Regions from separate parts of the Homo sapiens genome. Here region 1 is linked to region 2. Evidence: fine-mapped expression QTL. A gene starts in region 2. The other region holds a variant in brackets. All regions are shown on one strand. Distances are from middle to middle.

Region 1 (11,611 bases), 50 kb before region 2:
GGGATTACAGGCGTGAGCCACCATACCCAGCCATGATTCATATTTTTAATGCAAAAATCCAACTAAAGATCACCCAGAAAATACAAGAATCATTTAGTCAAGATCCGATACTCAATTTTGGTATTCATTTTAAATGTTGATTAGCATTAGGAGATATACCTAATGTAAATGACAAGTTAATGGGTGCAGCACACCAACATGGCACATGTATACATATGTAACAAACCTGCACATTGTGCACATGTGCCCTAGAACTTAAAGTATAATAATTTAAATAAAATACAATAAAATAAAAATGCTGATTATTTTTGACTTAAGTAAGATGAACATGAACTTTTAAAATAAGACTTTGAACTCTGATGACTCTTGGCTTAAATAAAACACATATAAATACTCCCACAAAAATTTAAATTTCTGAAGTAACTTTTGATGTCTATCAACGAAAGAGAATACTATAGAAAAGTTTTTTTAAAAAAAAAGAACATAAAGTAAAGCTACATATATCAAGGTAGAAGATAAATCTCAAATATATTGAATTTAGAAAGCAGGCATGTTTATAATATTTAAAAACACTCAAAATACTATGTATTGTAGTGAACATGTAAATATATGCACTGACATGATAAACACCAAGTTCAGAATAACAGTTGTTTAGGGAAACTGGGCAGGGAGCAAGGAGTATGCAACCAGAAAGAGTTACACCAGGGCTTTCATCACCATGCTAATATTCTGTGAATTAAGTTGGGTAGCAGGTATATGGATGTTCATTAAAAATAATTTTTTTAGAGACAGGGTCTCAGTCTGTCACTCAGGCTGGAGGGTGGTAATACGATCATAGCTCATTGCAGCCTGGAACTCCTGGGTTCAAGCAATCCTCCCACCTCAGCCCTCTGAGTAGCTGGGACTACAGGCACATGCCACCATGCCTGGCTAATATTTTTAAAAATTTTTTTGAGAGACGAGGTCTTGCTAGGAGGTCTTGCTGATCTCCAACTCCTGGGCTCAAGTGATCCTCCTGCCTCGGCCTCCCAAAGTGCTAGGATTACAGGCGTGAGCCACTGAACTCAGCCCCATTATTTTGTTCATTATGCCTTCTCAGATGTCTGAAATAGCCATAATAAAAATAATTGTTGAATTGTCTTCCAATAATACCTCTAAGTGGGAAGCGAGAGAATCATCAGTAAATAATCACAACTGAGGAACAGAGCACACTAAGAAACAAAGATAATGGTCCTGAAAGTGGCTCTGAATCCATCAGCACCTCCAGATAATCTATTAACTGGTTCTTTTAGTGTAGGCTTTATTTTTGGTTTTGGTTTAAATTAGTAACTGGTACACATTGTCCAACGGTAAGGTCCTTTCCAAAATATCATCTTCCTTCTTCCCATTCGTTACAATGTTTTGCCACAATAATAAAAGGAGCTCAGGCTGGGAAGTTGGCAGACACTGCTTTCCAACCTTTTTTACATCATGGCCTCCAAGAAAATGACAATATGTGTGTGCAAACTGAGGTAACTGGATGAGGCTGCTCACTGACAGGATCAATACGTTGGCATGCTCATAAGTCACTTTATCAAGCTGCAGTTGGCACATCAGTTGGGAAGTGCTGGGCTACAGAATCTAAGAACCACTGATACAAATTAAATCCAGAATCAAGACTGTGAAGGCAAATCCTTGAAGCCTCGTGCAAATAAAAGGCAATTGTGAGGGTCTTGTTCTGAAAGACAGTTCAAAAGGAAAAAGAGGCCAGGGCAGCGGCTTGCATTGGTGGTCCCAGCACTTTGGGAGGCCAAGGTGGGAAGATCATTCAAGTCCAGGAGTTCAAGGTAAGCCTGGGAAATACAGGAACCCACATCTCTATAAAAATTTTTAAAAATCAGGCAGGCGTGGTGACGCATGCCTGTACTCTCAGCTATTTGGGAGGCTGAGGCAGGAGGATCATTTGAGCCTGGGAGGTTGAGGCGGCAGTGAGCTGTGATCATGCCACTGCACTCCAGCCTGAGTGTGACAGAGTTAGGTCTTGTCTCAAACAAAACAAAACACCAGAAAAGAAAGATTCTGTAAACAACCACTTGAACCCATCCTACCACCTATCATAAATGCCTGTGTTGGAGATGCACAGAGGGACAGTCCTTCCCAATTGAACCAGTCATTCACCGGAAAAGCAAAACATGCTCTTCTTTCTCTACCAGCAGCAATAAAATATATGACTTGAAATAGTAGCTACTATTCTTACAAATTTGCCTTACATAGCAAAAACTGGGGGAACAACAGGAAACATGTCCATGCTATTTCAGAATTTTATTTATTAAGCTAGCTAGTGGGTACATGAATCTTCATCATCTTATTTCCTCTACCTTTTTTTATGTCTGAAATTGAGGAGAGAAGATTAAAATTGGTACATGGTTCTCATGTTAGAAATTGGCTTATAATATTAAGTTCTTAACTTAGCAAATCCCCAAACACCTTGAAAATGCTAAAGCCCTTGCCTTTCAGGCCTGAGATACATACTTCTTCAATTACTTCTACGAGTTTGCTCTTGAGATTTTCCAGCTCAATGGCTAAAATCTTCTTTTCCTCCTGAACAGATACAATTTGATCTCGAAGTTCTGCATTTTTAAAGAAAAAAAATATATAAATAAACTTATTTTTAAAATAAGAAATCAATCTGGTCAAAAGAATTGAAAATGCCAGTCCATGTGCAGCTTATGGTCAAGATTATTTAACAATTAAAAAGAAATGAAGAACCAAAGGACAATGAGAATCTCATTTGCGTGGCCCTCCCCAAAATAGCCATGGATATTAACAATTTTATATCAGGCAACCTCACTACATTAAATGTACCAGATCATGTTTTCTTTGCATTCTATCAAAACCACATTCTAGAAAACTATCTAGCATTTTGGAAGTAAAATTTTTTAAGTTTTCAGCAAAACAAATTAAGGTGTAGTACTAATTTCTTTTTTATTTCATAATGCCATGGGCTGTTATCACAATAAAATATAAACAATTGGGATGTTAATAATTTGGATATTTTGATTAGAAGTAAAAGATCCTGACTTGCTGCCAATTTATAGTCCTTAGACATTATTTGAACTGATTCAAAATATAACTATTTGAAAGAAGGGTTAATTCTAGTAATTTTCTCTCTAGAGTCATGGGTGTTTTGTTTTTAAATTTATTTCATAGTTTTATTATTAGGATTCAATGAAAAGTGTGTCACTAGAATGAGAGTATTATCAACTGTAAGCGCAAAAGCTTCTGGTGTTAAAGTTACTTCTGTCACTCAAATGTTTGAAAATACACATAGATTAGCACAGACTACTCAAATTCATATTCTGGCCTACTGTTTTGTCACTTAGGTTTTAACTGCCTTTAATTTCTTACTGTTTTCCAAGTGCAATAAAGAATATGTTATGTGGTTATTTGTAAATTAAATCAAACTTTTTACATAAACTCAGCTTGGAGAAGTTCTCAGAGACTTATTTCTGAATCACTTTCTCCATTTGCTGGCTAATCCAGAAAGAAGAACATGAAACCATATTGTTCAAGCTCGAACAGAAAGGAGAATAATGAGCAAAGGGAACTCCTTTAAACTTCCTCTCCCTCCCTACCAACATGAATTCTATTTTGTGTTAGCTTGAGGGGTTGAAGAGTAGGTAAAGATGGTGTCTGTAACATCCTTTCTTCTTTATACTTCCAGTTGAAATTTTATCTACCAAACAAATAAATGAATATTGCTTTTGACCTGTGTACTAAATTAAAATGTTCCAATAGTTACTGAGCCAGAACTGCTTTCCTACATCTTTAAATAAACATGTGTATGAGTAAAATGAATGTGCATTCAGTAGATGTATCATATGATCTTGCCTTACAACACTACTTGTTAACCAACAAAAAGGGGTGTCGCTAAATATATTTTTATTCATTGTTTCTTTCATTTAACAAAAATATCTTGACATATAGTACATATCCTTAAGGTTATAGTATAACTGGCTGCTTCCATTGAGACACTTTCAAAAGTGCTTAATTCCAAACAAGAAAGTAACTCATAAAGCACAATTGTTATATACCCTATGGTGATTTGGAGATATAAATAAATGATGTGGGAAGCTTTCAAAATACTGATGCCTAGGTCCTACCCCATCCAAAATTCTGATTTAATTGGCCTATGGTGTAGCAAAATTTTGGATAGGGTAGGACCCAGGCATCAGTTTTGTGTTTTGTTTTTTTTTTTTTTTTTTTTTTGAGACAGAGTCTCGCTCTGTCGCTCAGGCTGGAGTGCAACGGCGCAATCTCGGCTCACTGCAACCTCTGCCTCCTGGGTTCAAGTGATTCTCCCGCCTCAGCCTCCCAAGTAGCTGGGATTACAGGCACCTGCCACCACGCCCAGCTAATTTTTGTATTTTTTAGTAGAGACCGGGTTTCACCAGGTTGGCCAAGTTGGTCTCCAACTCCTGACCTCAGGTGATCCACCCGCCTTGGCCTCCCAAAGTGCTAGGATTACAGGCGTGAGCCACCACGCCCTGCCTAGGCATCAGTATTTTGAAAGCTTCCCACATGATTCTGATGTGCAGTCAGGGTTCAGAAGCACTATCATAACGGGGTAAAAAATATGCTCAATAATTAAGCAAAGAGTTCTACCTTTAATTTGCTTCTGACACTGTACTGAGACACAAGTCTCGGCGGCACCGTCTGTGTCTGTAGTCGAATCTTCATCATCAATGTTTATCTCTTCAGTTATTACATCTGGTCCCAGCTTGGCCATGTACAACATGCTGATTCTTTTCAACGTTTTATTTTCTTTATTTAGCTAAGACAAAATATAAAAACAGTTATTTTAAAAGCAGCCAAATGAGTATCTTGGATTTTTAAACAATAGACAAATTAAGTATATTTTTGTCTTACATATTCATCAACACTCACAGCAGGACATAACAATTAGTGGATTCATTAAATAAGGTTTTATATTAAATTTATTTCTTTAACCAAGATCTGATGTCTGGATTACAGCCAGCAGCAAGTGGAAATGCTAGTTGTAACTGATGAGAAATATAAGGAACTAAGATAAAACACCAGTACAGATTAAATAAAATTCTGATTTATAGTCATTAATAGTCTTAAAAAAGGCACTTTATTTCAAGCAAATCTTCTGCGTGCTGTGGTGCTGAGAACACCTTTTAAATGTCTGTTTGCCTAACATCTCTCTTTTCTGGACATTACCACTTTCCATTGTTCCACATGATTTCAATGGGAGTGCCATGCTCTCCCAAGCACACCCCATCCCTTTGGCCACAGCGAATTAGTCCAGGGATTAAACACATGACCCAAGTGTGACCAGTCAGATCCCCTCGCTAGAAATTTGGAGGCTGGAACAGAGCAATGAGTTTCTTTCCATGTGCCTGGACAGGAGCTGCTGGTAACCACATTCCACTATAGGATCAAGGAAAAGAGGAAGGTAGTTTTTAGAAAAGCTAAAACTGAAGCTGATGTGTAGAGAAAGGAAGAGAAAAGCAACAGAGAAAGGGTTTCCCACCAGACTCAAGCCCCAGACTCCAGTCCATTCCTAAACTGCTCCTGTCTCAGAGATTCTATGGAAGTCTCTGATATTTCTAACAGATCCCACATCATTTTCTTTTCTTGTTTAAACTAGTTCAAGATGTTGTTTCTACTATCTCTATTAAAAGAGTTCTACTTCACAGCAAAAAAAAAAAAAAAAAAAAGGAATCCTACTTTGTTAATGTATTTTTTATTCCCGGACAGGGAAATGAGTTGGTTTTTTAACTTCAGTTATTCAACTATTATCACCTTCTTTAGCTAATGTGTTTATGTACAAGAAAATTTAGGACAAAGCACACACAAAGACTAAGGATGTTCCAATGTCCACAGAAGTACAATATGGTTTTGCTCATATTTTCTCTTCCCAAGACTAAAAAATAAACAGTTTTCCTTAATTTGCGCACATCAAAGTAATCAGTAGATTATTTTCCCTACTATAAAATGTAAGTTATAGAAATGCAAATACATTTCCTTTACTAGAGCCCTTGACCAGGAAGACATGCTCTGAATTTAATAATTGATATTGGAAACAAATGAACATAGTTCATTGGAAAGATAACTACCTTTCCTCACTGTAAACCTGACACTAGAATAAGATATTTAGCATAGCACTGGTCTGACTTTGCTCTTTCATTTGTGATCATAATTAGGGTTCCTCAGGGTTTCTCATAGAGAAAGCCCAGCCCACTTTAATCTGGGAGATCTGATTTCTACCCCAATAATATGGAACCTAAAGTGGCATGGTCTGGAGCACGAGAGGTTTGTCTGACCTCTTTGGAGAATCAGGAAGAATCTCTAAGAAATGGTTATGAACTCTTCCATGGATTCTTCCTGGAAGACTGGCAAGCTCTATTCAGGAAATCAGACACAACCCTTTATCCTCAGTCCCAGTCTCCAA[C/T]TCTAGCTTCTGTCTGCACACATTACATTAGGAGATCAAGATAAAAGATGAGGCCCATCATTTCCCAACACCTCTTCCTTAAGTTGGAAAATTCAGATAAAAACTGTTGTGGGTTCTTTAAACCATGAATGCTACAGCATGGCACACGAAGCTCAAGGACCCTCACTTGTCAATTCTCAAACTATCCCATCTTTTAGGAATGTCAGAAGAAAACATCAATTTAAGGAAAAAGTGAAGACATTTAAGACTTAATTTCTGGTTCTGTATCCTAATATTTAAACTAATGGTTCTCAACTCTGGCCATCAGAATCTCTGGAGAGCTTTTTAAAAACCTCAATGCTTAGGCGCTATGCCATACCCAAATCTCTGGCAGTGAAGCCCAGCATAGCCCTTTTTCAGTTTCCCAGGTGATTCTAATGTACATCAACACTAAGAATCATTGATGTAAAGAAACGCATTGCTTTAGTATACAACCCAGCTCTGCAATAAAATTCCATCTCTGCCTCTACAACTAACCTAATCCTTATGTTTCAGTTTTCTCATCAGTAAACTAAGAATTAAGATAGTCTGTATCCCACAATATGATGACTAAATGAGACATTATATATAAAGTATTTAATATAGTAACTGCCACACAGTAAAACTTCAGTGTTAGTTATTCATAGTAAGAAGAGGTTTAGTTTGTGTCTAATTATCCTTTGGAAATCATTTATCAGCTAGTTTTCTTCAAAGTATTCATTTAGGCATTTTCTCCTTCCTCCAGGATACTCAAGAAACTACTAGTTTCTGTCATCTAGTGCTTAATATATTACTTCTTAGACAACCACTACAATAATACCTTAGCAACATCATAGCTAACAGTTCTGCCCTCAAAAGGGTTTAATGCCCCTATCAAACCAGGCACCAAAATCCACCAGTTTGTCTGCAATACAATTACTCTACTTAACAAAGTCACCAGCTCAAGAAAAAAAAGCCAATCAGAAAATTTCATAATCCTTCTCTGAAACCCCATTTTCGCATTTTGAAAGAAGAAATGTAAGATTTATATATATGAGGGTTTTTTTTGTTTTGTTTTTTTGGAGATGGGTTCTTGCTCTGTCACCCAGGTTAGAGTGCAGTGGTATGATCATAGCTCACCACAGCCTCAAAGTCTCAAACTCCTGAGCTCAAGTGACCCTCCCACCTTGTCCTTCCAAAGCACTGGGATTACAGGAGTGAGCCACCACACCCGGCCTAGACATGAGGTCTTATGTGCATACTATTTGAACATTTTTGAGAATTCTGAATTCACAAATTTTGGCTAAGTAATTTCATTGTAGCTATTCATCAAGCTATAGGTTAATTGCATGCTACTTGTTGTTTGGAACCCCTCTATGTCTAAGGCAAAAATATATCTTTTTACTTTTTTTTTTTTTTTTTTGAGATGGAGTCTCTCTGTCACCAGGTTGGAGTAGAGCTGCGTGATTTCAGCTCACTGCAACCTCTGACTCCCTGGTTCAAGCGATTCTCCTGCCTCAGCCTCCCGAGTAACTGCGATTACAGGCACACACCACCACGCCCAGCTAAGCTTTGCATTTTTAGTAGAGACGGGGTTTCACCATGTTTGCCAGGATGGTCTCAATCTCCTGACCTCAGGTGATCTGCCCACCTCAGCCTCCCAAAGTGCTGGGATTACAGGCGTGAGCCACCGTGCCCAGCCAAAAATATATCTTTTATAACCCTACAGTAACAGAACCTACTATTATATTCAAATGTAAATAGGGTTTTTATATTGTCCAGTTTAGTGGCTATTTAAAGGTACAAAACAAGCAAGTTTAATGGCTTTGGATCATATGACTTAAATAACTGGTCCACATTTATCAGTTTAATCTACACATTTTAGCAAAGCAAAGTATCCATACTTGCTTCTAAGAAAATATGAGGAACTGGGCGCAGTGGCTCACGCCTGTAATCCCAGCACTTTGGGAGGCTAAGGCGGGCAGGTCACCTGAGGTCAGGAGTTTGAGACCAGCCTGGTCAACACAGTGAAACACTGTCTCTACTAAAAACACAGAAATTAACTGGGTGTGGTGGCACATGCCTGTAATCCCAGCTACTCGGGAGACTGAGGCAGGAGAATTGCTTGAATCTGGGAGGTGGAGGTTGCAGTGAGCCAAGATGGCATCACGGCACTCCAGCCTGGACAACAGAGCAGGACTCCATTTCAAAAAGAAAAAAAAGAAAATTACGAGGTCAAGCTGCATCATCAGAATTAAACATTCCATTTGTCATTAATTTGATGGCAAAAATTTAGAAAAATAAGAATTTATAGAAACTTTGCTCTCAGGAAAAAAAATGAGCATTTTTGAAAGCCTCCTTTCAAAAATGACAATTGATACTTAAATCAGAATGAAGTCACACATATAATGAAGTTTCCACATTTTGCATTCAAAGCAGTCTTTCACAACAAACAAGCACATTTATAGTATTTGATTTAATCCATTTTTTAAATTTTTTTCTAGGCCCCATGAGTTCATACTATATCTTCAAAAATAAACTATATGTTCATTTTAAAAAAGGGTTTTTAAAGAACAGGCAACAAACAGTGTTAGGTAAGGATCCTATTATTAAGACTTAATTGTAAAAATGAGCTTAGAGATTAGGTAACACTGGTTCGTAACGAGCAATGAATATAACAGTCACCAGGCAGCTTTTCTACATGCACATGCCTGGGCCACACATCTAGAGCCAATGGATCTGGGGTATTATGATGAAGCCAACCATGGTCCATCCTGGCATTTAGAGCAAGACAACTGTAGCTCAGAGAGGTGAGTTCTCTTGCCCAAAAACACCTATTAAATAAAAGGGGAGACAGAATAAAGTAATTTTTTAAAAGGGGCCATATGCAAATAAATTATTAACTCCAGTCCTAACTCTAGTCCATCATGTCATTTAAGATGAGATACTACACTCCAGAGAACAAAATTAACTTGTCCAAAATCACATATGCCCAAAATTACATAACCAGGAACAAAACCTGTATATACTGTCCCACAAACCAGTGCCTTCCATAAACTCTGCCAATCCTGAAAGGTAGCCAGTATCCTCACTCTGGATGTGCTATGACAACAGGAATACTTGTTAATAACAAGAAAAAATAGAGAGTATATCCTTAGACACTAGAAGATTCAGAGCAGCTAGCAGGCTCCAAATGTACTTTTTCTCTACTTATTCCAAAGAAAGAAATTCAAAAATGAAAATAGAATTCACACAACATTACGGACTAGTGAACTCTAGGAATGTGCCGCAGAGTAAAAATGATGTGAGAATACCCATGTTATCATTTTTTAAAAAGTGTTTTTAAAGTGTATTGCTGTGTATTCTTCAGATGAATAACAGGAGAGAAGTTACATACCCAAATTTATATTCTTAGTTAGGTCCTGATTAAATATCTTATGAATTCTAATGTAGTGTTGTTATGCAAACAATTAAGCAAATACCTCTAGGAAGCACACTGTTAATGCATACAAATTACATTTATTTATGTATTTATTGAGAGTAGGATTTCAGTCACATCCAAAGAAATTTTCGGAGGTGGGTGATGGAGGGGAGGGAAAAGAAACACAACCAGTATTACTAATGAAATTTGGTTGAAAATTGCTGTAATCCACTTTCTGATGAAGTGGTTCAGATGCATTTTACCCAACCCAAAATACATAAGACAGAGATAAAAAAAACATTCTTTAATAATAATGTACTTCTGATGAGATAGAATGTAGAAAATTACACACTTGGTAAATTCATCAGCAAGAGGCAATCAGTGGAACACTGGAGGTCACCTTCAGCATGCCCTCGCTTTGCTTTCATAAATAATCACCTGAAATGCACGGCTTCAGGGTGACTTTTTCATCTGATTCAAATATGAGACATTCACTGCTCTTTTATGTCACACCAGGTTAGTTTTAAACTTGGTTAGCATTTTAACCAAATGCATGGACATTTGCAAAGTCCCCTTTAACACTACTCTGGGACCATTTTTTCCACATTTTCACAGGCAAAAAGCACAAATGCTGAAATACTCACATACAAATGCTCCTTTTACAATTTGGAATAACCTTTGCATTAAGGTGAATATTTACATAATCATATTCCAGGATTCTGAGGCCTTTTAACATTTCCCTCATCATCAGAGTAGATAATCGATTAGAGAAGTAGAAAAGCAAAACCAGATAGAAGCCACTGCTTAGAAAAGCAAGTTGAAATTTAAAAGCTCAGGTAAAATTCCTTCATTTGAAGTCTCACCTTTGTTGCCAAAGCTTCAGCACTTTCTCGACAAGTCTTCTCTATTTCAAGATGGTTCTGCATGAAATTAACTTCCTCTATGACCATGTGAGAAACTAGGAATGAGGGGGAAAAAAAATCTCAGCATTCAAAGATTAGTCAGCTATTCCAGGAGCCCACGCATCGTCCCATGATTAAGAATACTTCAATTCTTTGGCTAGCCAGACCTTTAGCTATCACTGAAAAAAGGTTTTTGAGAAGCTGCCCTGATTAAATCTGAGCTAATATTTGAATGTAGAAAGAAACAAGAACACAACAAAATACATTCATTTCACATACATACATTTTATTATGTACATTTTAAGAGCGCTATTTAGATTTTTTTACAAGTCTATTTTCTATGCAACTATATATGTATCCATAGACATATGTGCTAGTTTAAACAAAAGAATATTTCATAAATAAAGAGGAGTGACAGCATGACTTCTTTTTCTCAGCAGTGTATAACACATGGCTCTAATAAGAAAAATTAACAAAAAATAAAAGAAAAATAAATCTTAAATTGATCTTATGACTGGAGTAGTGATGTGGCGACTTGGCTAAGTACTGCAACATTTGTCTCTATTAGCTACAAAGTAGTTACTGCTATTTCATAAGTAACTCTCAGGCAGAAAAGTATAGCAGTAAGATTTATGTACTATATGGTTATAAAGCAGATGCTAATAAATTACTTCCTGAATCATAGGCTATCAGAAGCATTAGAAGAAAAATAAAATTTTACTTGATATGTCACCAATGCTCGAAAAATTGTATTTTTTAGATTTTTTGACAGCTGGTGCATGTAAATTGAGATTTACAGGTATAAAGTGATTTAGAACTTGAGTTATATTTTGA
Region 2 (11,611 bases):
CTCAAGGAGATAAGAGAAAAGATCTTGGATATTACAATGGCTTATGGCCCTTCAAAGAGTCACAGTGCATAAAACGCCTAAAAAGTTTCCTTAGGAGAGTGATAATGAAATAAAGATTGAGAAACAATGGGTCAGATAGAATAGTTAATTGTACTTTTCACTTTACACACTTGTTTTCTATGAGCATGTGTTTATTTTTGCATTTATTTTAAAAAAGGTTCACAGCTGGGTGCGGTGGCTCACGCCTGTAATCCCAGCACTTTGGGAGGCCTAGGCGGGTGGATCACAAGGTCAGGAGTTCGAGACCAGCCTGACCAACATAGTGAAACCCCATCTCTACTAAAAATACAAAAATTAGCCGGGTGTGGTGGCACATGCCTGTAGTCCCAGCTACTTGGGAGGCTGAGGCGGAAGAATTGCTTGAACCTGGGAGGCGGAGGTTGCAGTGAGCCGAGACCACGCCATTGCACTCCAGCCTGGGTGACAGAGTGAGACTCTGTCTCAAATAAATAAATACATAAATAAATAAATAATATTAAGGAAATAGTGAAATTCTGACTAGAAGACATAGTTCCTTAGCCCACACTGCATGTTCATCTCATGGGGGGTTGCCAAACTGTTGTTCTTCAGCAACCACTCCCTAACTTTCAGAGGAAAATGCATTGTTGATAAGTACCTGGTGATTCAGATGCAGCTGGCCCTTGTACCACACTTTGAAAAATACTGATGTAAAACCAAGTTTGCACTTGAAAACAAGGCAACATTTAATTCCAAACAGCTTTCTACTGGCTGATCTCATATGCACCCAAGATTGTCAATGCTTCCGTTTTCCCAGACTGACGTGGTCATTGTGGTAGGCAATAGTTTCAGACTGTTTTGTCAAAATAATGCTCCAGTTATTTCCTGGCCTAGAAGCCAATGGAATACTGGATGCATCTTTTAATTACTAACTTGCTCTAAGAATAAGCTTGACTAGATTTCCATGTGAACTTAAGTATCATCTCAATAATCTTGGGGAAAACGATACTAACTCTAAAGGTGAAAAGAGGTTTAAAATTGCTTTAAAACCAATTACCTCACCATAGGAAATCCATTTTAAATACTGTTAGCCCAAAAATTGCCCATTATTGGGGTGGTGGTGGTTGTTTTCCTCTTATGTATGTCCTTATTATTAAATAGCCATCTCTCTTCAAAATTTCATCAACTTGGAAATGACATGGCATTACTACACTGAACAGTTTAGCAGACATGTGTTGTCTGTGTCTGCCCGGTCAGCATCCTCATGGTAGTGCACCCCATTCTGTTTTGGACTATTCCTCCAATCTTTGCAGGGGCTGCCAATTAAAGTATCCTGCCCTCCCGTGGCCAAAGTATTTGAATACATGAGATTGGCCAAACTAGGCCAATCAGACACTCCTCCTGGAATTTACATGCCTAGCACTATCTCTAGACCAGGAACTCCTCACCAGCAGAGGCAAGGTCTTATTCAGCTCTATCTCTCTGATGCCTAGCACAGTGCCTGGCTATGAATATTCAATGCATGTGGGCTGAATGAATTATACAGAAAATCATGCACCTTAAACAAATGCTGAACTAAGTCTATCATTTTCCCACTGAATTCCGGAGGGGGAGCAAATTGTATGATGTTTTGTAAGGGAAATATCCACTTTAGTAGCTAGGAAATATGCCTCGGAAATAGTATCCAAAGTTGCCATTTCTCGGTGCATTAAAGATGTCAATCAGTCCAATAAAATAAAGCCCCAAAAAAGACAAAAGGAGAATTACCTCATTACCTCAACATCTGCTTGAACATAAGCAATCACACACTGGCTAATTTTTTTTAAAGGGACATAATATAACTTTCTGGAAAGACATAATATAGCTAATTATACCATTCACTAGGAGGGAACATAAAATGTTTTGAAGTAATTCAGAAGTGGGTGTGATTTATAAGACATAGAGCTTAGGGAATGGTAAGTATAAATTAGAGATTGTTCATATTATGACAGACTCCGTCATTACATTTCACAACTTTTGTCAAAAGCAACCTTATTCACCACACCACTAAAGGCTTCACGTTAGGGAAGGCTGCTGTCAGCTTTGTGGTTTAGAGTAGACAGGAATCTCCTTTCTGAACACTCTCCTGGGGAACTGGTTCAAGTTTTAGACTTAAAACTTACTAAGGCAGGGCAAAATGAAGAGAGATTGTTTAATGGGTTCAAACATAGTTAGATACAAGGAGTAAGTTTTAACATTTTGATAGCAAAGTAGGGTGACTACAGTTAACAACAATGTATTATATATTTCAAAAGAGATAGAAGAGAGGACTTGAAATGTTCTCAACTCATTGAAATGATAAATACTGGAGGTAATGGATATCCCAAATACCCTGACTTGATCATTATGCATTCTAAGCATGTAACAAAATACCCCATGTCTTCTATAAATATGTACAAGTCTCATGTATCAGTTTAAAAAAAAATCACTAAGGAAGGACCCATATGATGAAACCTAAATGGCCAATGGCCATGTAAAAAGATTTCAAACATCACTAATAACCAGAGCAATGCAAATCTTAAAAGGTAACATTCTGCCCATTAGATTGGCAAAAATTCAAAAACTTGTCAGGCCATCAAATGAATAAAGATTGCTATTAGCCAGAGTTGACCAATGTGTGGGGAAATGGGTACTGCTGAAGGATATCTGAACTGGTATAATCATTTTGGAGGGCACTTTTGCAATGTCTAGCAAAAGTAAATGTCCGTGCCCTCTAATCCAACAATTCCATTTCTTCTAAGAATCTATCCTAGAATAAAAAAGTAATTGTACATTTATTCATATGATAACTTGAATAGTACCTGTCTTCTCTTCTAGAAAATTAATTTGGTGACAAGGACTGTGTAGTTCACTATTTACACCCCTAGTGCCTACCACATGGACCTGACATATGGTGGTACTTGATAAGTATTTGTTGAAGGAATGAATAAATATGTTTACTCAGCATTATTAAGGGAAAATAACATATTTGATAAATAGTGGTTCTTCTTGCTCACACTAAATAGGGGTAGTGGAATTATCACTCAGAATATTAACATTGTGAGTAAAAAGGTAGTAACAGGTAGTAAAAATTACTATTTTCAAAAATAAACCATGCAACCATCAGCTTACAAAATTGATCATAGTATGTACTGTTAAATGCTCAAAGACCCAGTTACCTGTTCTTCCAAATCCCTAGCTTCCCAATTAGTTCTACAGGTCAAACAGTAACTGAACACTTTTGAAGTAAATTGTTTCCACAGTCTGTGATCCAATGACAAGCAAACTACCTGGTTTTGAAATGTATAAAAATCACACTGTGGGCTGAAAAAATCCCAACACCTTTGTAACTAGACTCACTATCCCCAAAAGTGTACCTTTTAAGAAACACAACTTTGAATATCTAACTGTTCTATTACCTTTCATATGCACTTAATCAAGGAAATATATCCTCTAAAAATACCAATGCCAAGGATTTGTTTATTTTCCAATACAATGCAATAGGAGAAAGAGCCACAAATATAGAAATCCTTTTTGTCAGGCCTCAAACCCAACATAGGAATGGAGAATGTGTTCCGAAATCAAATATAAGCAATTTGCAGATTATCTACATTGTTAATCGACCCTTGATTATACAAGAAATGAAAGGGAAAATTTTTTTATGTTTATCATTATTCGAAAACTGACCAACCATAAGAAGATCTGATATCCACTGACAGATATTACCTATAATGAAAGCTCCACAAATCTAGAATATGAATCAAGTTTTAATGTTTTGGGTTGGGCGAAGGTGTATTAAATATAAAATACCAGTCAGTAGAATCCAGTCCCTCGCTAAAACACTTGAGAAACTTCAGATAAAGGCATTCTGTCCACCCACTAAATTCACTGATGCTTGTGACTTTATGACCTCAGGCTAATCTAGGATGCCAGGTAAAGGTGCTGGGAAGGCCAAAGAGACTAACATTTATCCAGCACTTTCTAGATGCTGGATATCACAGAAGAATGTGTTATGTCCATTTCAGAGGTTAAATAATTTCCCCAGGGTCACACAGTAAACAGTAATGTTGAAATTTGTTTGCCAGAGTGTGGCTTCAGAGGAATCCGGGAGCACTTCCCAACGGTGTCTGTGGTTTTACGCAACAACAGGTAAGAGTACTGGACAGGACCTCAGAAAGTCCTCCAGTTTCACCCTCGCCTTTAGTCAGGTCGGCCTTGATTGACCAGAAGATCCACGGAAGGAAAGAGACTCCTCCAAGTTCACAGAGCAGGTGAGCTGGGCCAAGAGAAGTGAAAGAGCTGCAACTAAATACCAGGTTTTGCCACAGAGCAGGGATCCTTCCATTACATGGTCTTGTCAGCAAGACATTCAGAAAAGTACATGTTCCTACACATTTTTACTTCCTTTAAATCTGTATGGTTCCTCCCTTTATTTCTTTATTATTTATTATTATTATTTTTTTTTGGAGATGGAGTTTCGTTCTTGTTGCCCAGGCTGGAGTGCAACGGCGCCATCTTGGCTCACCGCAACCTCCGCCTCCTGGCGATTCTCCTGCCTCAGCCTCCCGGGTAGCTGGGATTACAGGCATGCACCACCACGCCCGGCTAATTTTGTATTTTTAGTAGAGATAGGGGTTCTCCATGTTGGTTAGGCTGGTCTCGAACTCCTGACCTTAGGTGATCCACCTGCCTCGGCCTCCCAAATTGCTGAGATTACAGGCGTGAGCCACCGCACCCGGCTGGTTCCTCCCTGTCTTGACCCACATTCGCAGACCACCCTTTGGTCAGGGTAATAATGATAAGTGTTTAAATGTGATAGGTTAGCATTTGGTTGTTGATCTGGTTTGGTTCAGAAGTGTGGTAACTGATGAAAAAAATGATTGACTGAAGCAGGTCTTTATTAAAGGATAATCCCCAGTTACCAAGCAGTACAGAAATGCGTGCGCATGGCCTGGCTCTCCTTCGCCCAGCGTCAACCCTGTTAATTCTGAAAGCTCAACACTGGCAGGATGTTGACCTTGCTGACTAATAAACTGCTAAAATTGAGAAGTGATTAAAAAAAAAATTATGGCCTGAAAATCCCAGCTGGGCAAGGAAAGAGGAACTAGACCGAATCCAAACGAAAAGCTGGGAAGGGTGTGAAACAGCCCTACAGGCCACCCAGCGCCAACAAATGTGTAAGGGTGGGGCCAAGCTAGCTGAGCCGCCCAAAGCAGCCAAAATATCCTGCCCCACCCGCTTCTCCGGCAAGGAAGGTGGCACTGTGCAACCTCGTCCGCACTGAATCCTCGTCCCTTCCCCCAGCCCCCGATCGCCAGCAAACGCAACCAGCGGGCAGCGGGTCTCGAGCTGCGGGGCCTGACTAGCCCCGACACTCCGCGTTATCCTCGGTCCAGAGCTTTCCCAGGCGCGCCGGCCACGGAGGACGCTTCTCTGCGGGTGACGGAGCTACTGCGGTGACCACGGCGGCCGCCACGTCTCCCGCCCGGCTTCCAACTGCCCTGGCCCCAGCGCCCTGGGGCCGTCCCCGCCCACGGGCCGCGGCTGCCCACACCTGGCGCCCGCGTGCTGCCTACCTTGCTCCTTCAGACTGGTAATGAGCTGCAGCTGCTTCTCTTCGTCCGAGCTGTTCATTTTGGCGGGTGGGGCCGGGAATAAAAGGGAAAGAGGGAGCGGCGCGGGGCACACAGGAGGAGGGGGAAGAAAAAGCAAGATGCCGGTGGCTTGCGGCTCCACTACCCGGAAGTTGGATCCGCTCCCGCTCCTCCTCCTCCTGGCGCGGAGCGCGCGAGTGAGATCATCCCCACGCACCTACTCGGCGGCTGCGGCCGCTTCACCTGCAGGCGGGGCGGGGCGGGCCCAGCAGTCCCGTTCAGGGGGTGGAGGAACGAGGGCGGGTCGGCAGCCGCTATGCCAGCCTGTGGCTGCCGGCGCGGCAGGACGCGCTGGTGGGAGGGGGGGCGGCCCTGCGTGGGGTCGCTCCGCACCCTTTTCTCCGCCTCCACCTCCCGGACTCAGGGACGCGAGTTCAGAGAAAACCGGCTGTGGGTTCGCAGCGTGTGTGGGAACTCCACTTTGGACGCTTCCCGGGGGTCGCTCCCAAAGAACCACAGAGGTAGAGCGGGACGCAATGAGCCATGAACGCCTGGGCTTCTTCCCTAGTTTTCCCGCAGTAGACTCTGGGGGCGCGGTTGCAAAACCTAGCTGCCCACAGGGGCGGGCCCAGGGTGGTACATTTTGCACCTTGAAGAGGAGACAAGGATCGAATCAGGCCGCCCAGCTACTTAAATGACCATGCCGTGAGTGAAGGAGGGCCCTGGCTAGCTTTCCCCCATCGCACCAGGTTTGCCAGGTGGTCAGAACGTGGACCCTGCTGCACGTGGATGGTGGGGCCTGGAGGGCCCTTGCAGATCATCTGGTTGGTGGCGGGATGACCTTCCCTTTAGAGAGGGTGCCACTGCAGTCCGAATGCCGAAGGTCACGCAGCCCCCGGGCAGCAGAGGCTGGCAGTTAAGCCAAGCGTTTGTCCCAGTTCACTGCCCTCTGAACTATTTGAACTCATGTCTGTGTTAGACCATGCCCAGGAGAGAAGTGGCAGGTCTGCATTGTTTCAAAGGTGCTTCTCCCCAACCCCTAGTTGCGAGCTAACCTTTGGTCAAGTCTCCTGCATCTTTGAACTTCATCTGAAGAATAGGAAGAATAGTGATACCTACTCTCAAGGAAGAGTTGTAAGGATTTAATAGAGGAAGATTAACAAAACACCAAGTCCAGAATTTATAATGCAGTTTTTTTTTGTTTTTTTTTTGTTTTTTTGTTTTTAATAAAGATTACAGGTCTGTGGCCGGGCACAGTGGCTCACGCCTGTAATCCCAGCACTTTGGGAGGCCAAGGCGGGCAGATCACGAGGTCAGGAGATCGAGACCATCCTGGCTAACACGGTGAAACCCCGTCTCTACTAAAAATACAAAAAATTAGCCGGGCGTGGTGGCAGGCGCCTGTAGTCCCACCTACTCGGGAAGCTGAGGCAGGAGAATGGCGTGAACCCGGGAGGCGGAGCTTGCAGTGAGCCGAGATCGCGCCACTGCACTCCAGCCTGGGTGACAGAGTGAGACTCCGTCTCAAAAAAAAAAAAAAAAAAAAATTACAGGTCTGTGAGAAAGGGGTTGTGGTTGCTGACTATAAGCTGAAGGTTGCAGTTCTTTTACACTGATCATTAAGCATGGGAGATAAGTCCAAACTGAATTAGACTTATTGCACAGCTTGGTTTTTCTCACTACCTCTAAGCTCTTAGTTTGGGTACAGCAACAGCACAGTGCTGCTCATTCCTCAATTGCTGTTTTATGGAAGTGCCCAGCTCCATTTCTTGTGTTCATTTCTCCATGATAGTTGTAGAGTGAGGTTGAGATATGGGTAAATCCTGTAACTAGTGTCTTTCTGATACTCACTACATGCTAACTAAAATTTTGAAAAAAAAAATGGTAGCACTGCTTTCTCTTTCTCTAAAATGGCAATATAGTACTTTAGCATGAGTGATTTAGGGGTAGAATGATCTAAAAGGGCAGCATAGTATTTTTTAATACAGTGTATTAAAATGTTTAAAGTTTAAAAATAATTTTGATATGGGATTGTATTATTCAGCCCTTTCCCTAGGTATGCGTAAGATAATTCAAGATAGTTGCAGATAGCTGCCATGAAGATCCCCAGGAGATAATAATAAAAAAATCCGGGAGATTTTAATGAAAAATAATGGACATTTAGCTTTTGTCCAGCAGTTGGGAAACCTGTTAAACCTGATGAGTCATCCTGACTCATTCTCTCTCACTCTACCAAATACAAGCAGAGTGCCCATTAAATATTTGGCTTAGTTCACAAAGTTCCATTTTTTTTTAATGGCTGATTTGTCTACTCCAATTATACAGTAGTTAGATAGTATTTCTGGAGTTTAAGAATGAGTTAATTATCAAATCTATAATCAAACTTTTGGTTCCATACTAAATCTGCGGCCTCTTGCAATTAATCCCATTTATCCTCCTTAAAATTAGAAAAGGCTCCTGAGCTGAGATTCTGCCACTGCACTGCAGCCTGGGTGACAGAGTGAGACTCCATCTCAAAAAAAAAAAAAAAAAAAAAAAAAACTCCTGAAATACAATATGGCATTCACTTGAGGACATGGTATGAATTATTAGGAGGGCTATTAGAGTCCTTATTGGGATTCAGTTCTCCCATTACACTATTGTTTATTTATATGATATGAATATTGATGGAAAGGATAGAAGTGATAAATTAGTTTTTGTTCCGTTTAATAATATACAGAGTGATGGCTATGGGAGGCCGAGGCGGGCAGATCACGAGGTCAGGAGATTGAGACCATCCTGGCTAACACGGTGAAACCCTGTCTCTACTAAAAATAAAAAAAGCTGGGTGTGGTGGCGGGCACCTGTAGTCCCAGCTACTCGGGAGGCTGAGGCAGGAGAATCACTTGAACCCGAGAGGCGAAGGTTGCAGTGAGCCGAGATCATGCCACTGCACTCCAGCCTGGGTGACAGAGCGAGACTCCATCTCAATAATAATAATATACATAGTGATTTATGTTGCAGGCATCACGTTGGAGTTACTATTGACCTCCAAATAACAGGTCATTTAAAACCCTTAAAAATGTGTGTGTTTACATATATATATACAAATATATACATAGAGATAAAGGACAGACTTTTAAAAAATGAATTGGAAGAATATGTGCCAAACTCAGGATAATGGCTGTCTCTAGGGATAGAAAGTAGGGGAACAGGACCAAGGTGTGGGGGTTGGAGTGTGAAAGTGCAGTGGTCAAGAAGGAGTTTCTCTTTAATCTTTATTTAATTTTTCAGGTAATTAAAGTAAAATCACATATGTCATCTTTTGAGGTATACAGATAAATAAGATTGAAATACAATGAGGAGAAGAAGGTTCACTGTCTTTGATCCACTAATTCTATATCAGGGAATCTATCCTAAAAGGCTTATGTACAGAGCTATTTAATGTAATGTTAATTATCATATGAAAATGGCAATATTGGAATATTATTTGGTAATAAAAATAAAGTACTGATATATGGTACAACACAGATGAAATTTGAAAACATTATACTCAGTGAAAACTTGATCAGAAAAGACCAGATATTGTATGATTGCACTTGTATAAAATGATCACAACAGGCAAATCCATAGAGGGAGAAAGTTGATTGGTGAGTATCTACTGAGGTGGGGTGAAAGTAGGGGAGGTCTGGGAGAAAACAGGGAATGGCTGCTGATAGGTGTGTGGTTAATTGTTGGGGTAATACAAATTTTCTAAAATTAATTGTGGTAATGGTTGTACAATTCTCTGAATATACTCAAAACTATAGAATTGGCCGGGCGCTGTGGCTCACGCCTGTAATCCCAGTACTCTGGGAGGCCAGGGCGGGTGGATCACCGGAGGTCAGGAGTTTGAGACCAGCCTGACCAATATGAAGAAACCCAATCTCTATTAAAAATATAAAAAATAAGCTGGGCGTGGTGGCACATGCCTGTAATCCCAGCTACTCAGGAGGCTGAGGCAGGAGAATCACTTGAACTCAGGAGGAGGAGGTTGCAATGAGCCGAGATCGTGCCATTGCACTCCAGCCTGGGCAACAAGAGCAAAATTCTGTCTCAAAAAAAAGAAAAGAAAAGAAAATATCAACCAAATATGCACAAAAGGAAAGGAGAAAGAAGTCAAAATGATTACCAAAAACATACACATTTTTTTAAAAACTAAGTATAAAATAAGGCAATAATGAAGCAAATGAAGAGCAAAAGAGCTATAAGACATATAGATAATACATAGCAAAATTGCAGAAATAAGTCATTTCTTATTAACTGTAACTTTAAATGAAGATGGCTTAAACTCTCCAAAAGGCAAACACTGGCAGGATGCAAAAAAAAGTATGATCTAACTATATGATGTCTACAAAATATTTATTTTAGATCCAAAGACAACAATAGATTTAAAGCAAAATGGTAGGAAAAAATTTAATTAGTAACCAAAAGAGAGTTGGGGTGGTTATATTAATATCAGACAAAACAGACTTTAAGTCAAAAACTGTTACAATAAACAAAAGTCTATATTCACAAAAGGGTTGATTCGGTAAGAATATATAATTACTATAAACATATATACAAGCTGGGCACGGTGGCTCAAGCCCGTAATCCCAGCACTTTGGGAGGCCGAGACGGGCAGATCACGAGGTCAGGAGATTGAGACCATCCTGGCTAACACTGTGAAACCCCGTCTCTACTAAAAATACAAAAAATTAGCCGGGCGTGGTGGCGGGCGCCTGTAGTCCCAGCTACTGGGAGGCTGAGGCAGGAGAATGGCATGAACCCGGAAGGCGGAGCTTGCAATGAGCCGAGATCGCGCCACTGCACTCCAGCCTGGGCGACAGAGTGAGACTGTCTCAAAAAAAAGGAAAAGAAAAAAAAAACTTATGGAATACCGTGAAGACAGTGCTCAGAGAGAAATTTATAGTTCTAATTACTACATTATAAAAGAAAGATACAAAATCAATAAGGTAACTGTACACCTTGAGAAAATAGACAAGCAAAATAAACCTAAAGTTAGCAGAAGGAATAAAATAATGAAGATTAGAGTGGAGATAAAATAAAAGACAATAGAAAAATAATAGAATTAATAAAAAGCTATTTCTTTGAAAGTATCAAAATTGACAATCCTTTCCCTAAATTAACGAAGAAAAAAAAGAAATATGAAAATCAGATATTAAAATGGGGACAGTAATACCAATGATTCAGAAATAAAAAGGATTCTAAGAGAATAATAAGAACAATTATATGTCAACAAATTAAATAACCTAGAAGAAATGGACAAATTCCCAGAAACACACAAGTCACCTAAACTAACTGAAAAAGAAAATTTCAGCAGAACTATTATAAGTAGAGTAATTCAGAAAGTATTAAAAAAAGAAAAGAAAAGAAAAGAAAGACACCCTTCAATGAAAATAAGTTCAGGCCCAGATGTCTTTCCTGGTGAATTCTATCAAACATTTAAAGAATTAACACCAGTCTTTCTCAAACTTTTCTAAAACACAAAAAAGGAGAGAACACTTCCTAACTCATTCTATGAGGCCAGCATTTCTGTGATACCAAAGCCAGATAAGGATATCACAAAGAAAAGAAATGTACACACCAATTTCTCTTATGAATATGGTTGCAAAAATCCTCAACAAAATACTAACAAACCAAATCCAACAACACATTAAAAGGATTATACACCACGACCAGGTAGTACTTATTCCAGGAATGCAAAAGTGGTTCAACATAAGAAAATCAATCAATGTAATATGTCACATTAATAGGAAAAAAACCAGGTGATCATCTCAATTGAGACAGAAAAGGCATTTGACAAAAGTCAGCATCGTTTCACCATAAAAACTCTTAGCAAACCAGTAATAGATGGAACATCCTCACCATGATAAAGGGCATCTGTAAAGAAGCCACAGCTATAATCATGGTCAATGGTGAAAGACTGAAAGCTTTCCCCCTGAAATTAGGAACGAGACAAG

The links. PIP is the estimated chance that this variant, and not a neighbour inherited with it, causes the effect.
Region 1: its variant is fine-mapped to the expression of SHTN1 in whole blood (INTERVAL, PIP above 0.99).

The regions. Positions count from the first base shown.
Region 1 is chr10:116,949,398-116,961,008 of GRCh38, forward strand. SHTN1 (shootin 1) reads right to left here. Exons shown (of 17, transcript NM_001127211.3): 4 at 10,739-10,833; 5 at 4,645-4,813; 6 at 2,512-2,609. Among named protein-coding and RNA genes, the nearest start is that of SHTN1, 50 kb to the right of the region's middle. The variant C/T (reference allele first, on the strand shown) is at 6,458.
Region 2 is chr10:116,999,410-117,011,020 of GRCh38, forward strand. SHTN1 (shootin 1) reads right to left here and starts at 5,778. Exons shown (of 17, transcript NM_001127211.3): 1 at 5,613-5,778. The coding sequence starts at 5,670. RefSeq lists an enhancer at 4,861-5,554 and silencers at 5,369-5,663, 5,535-5,644, 5,875-5,954.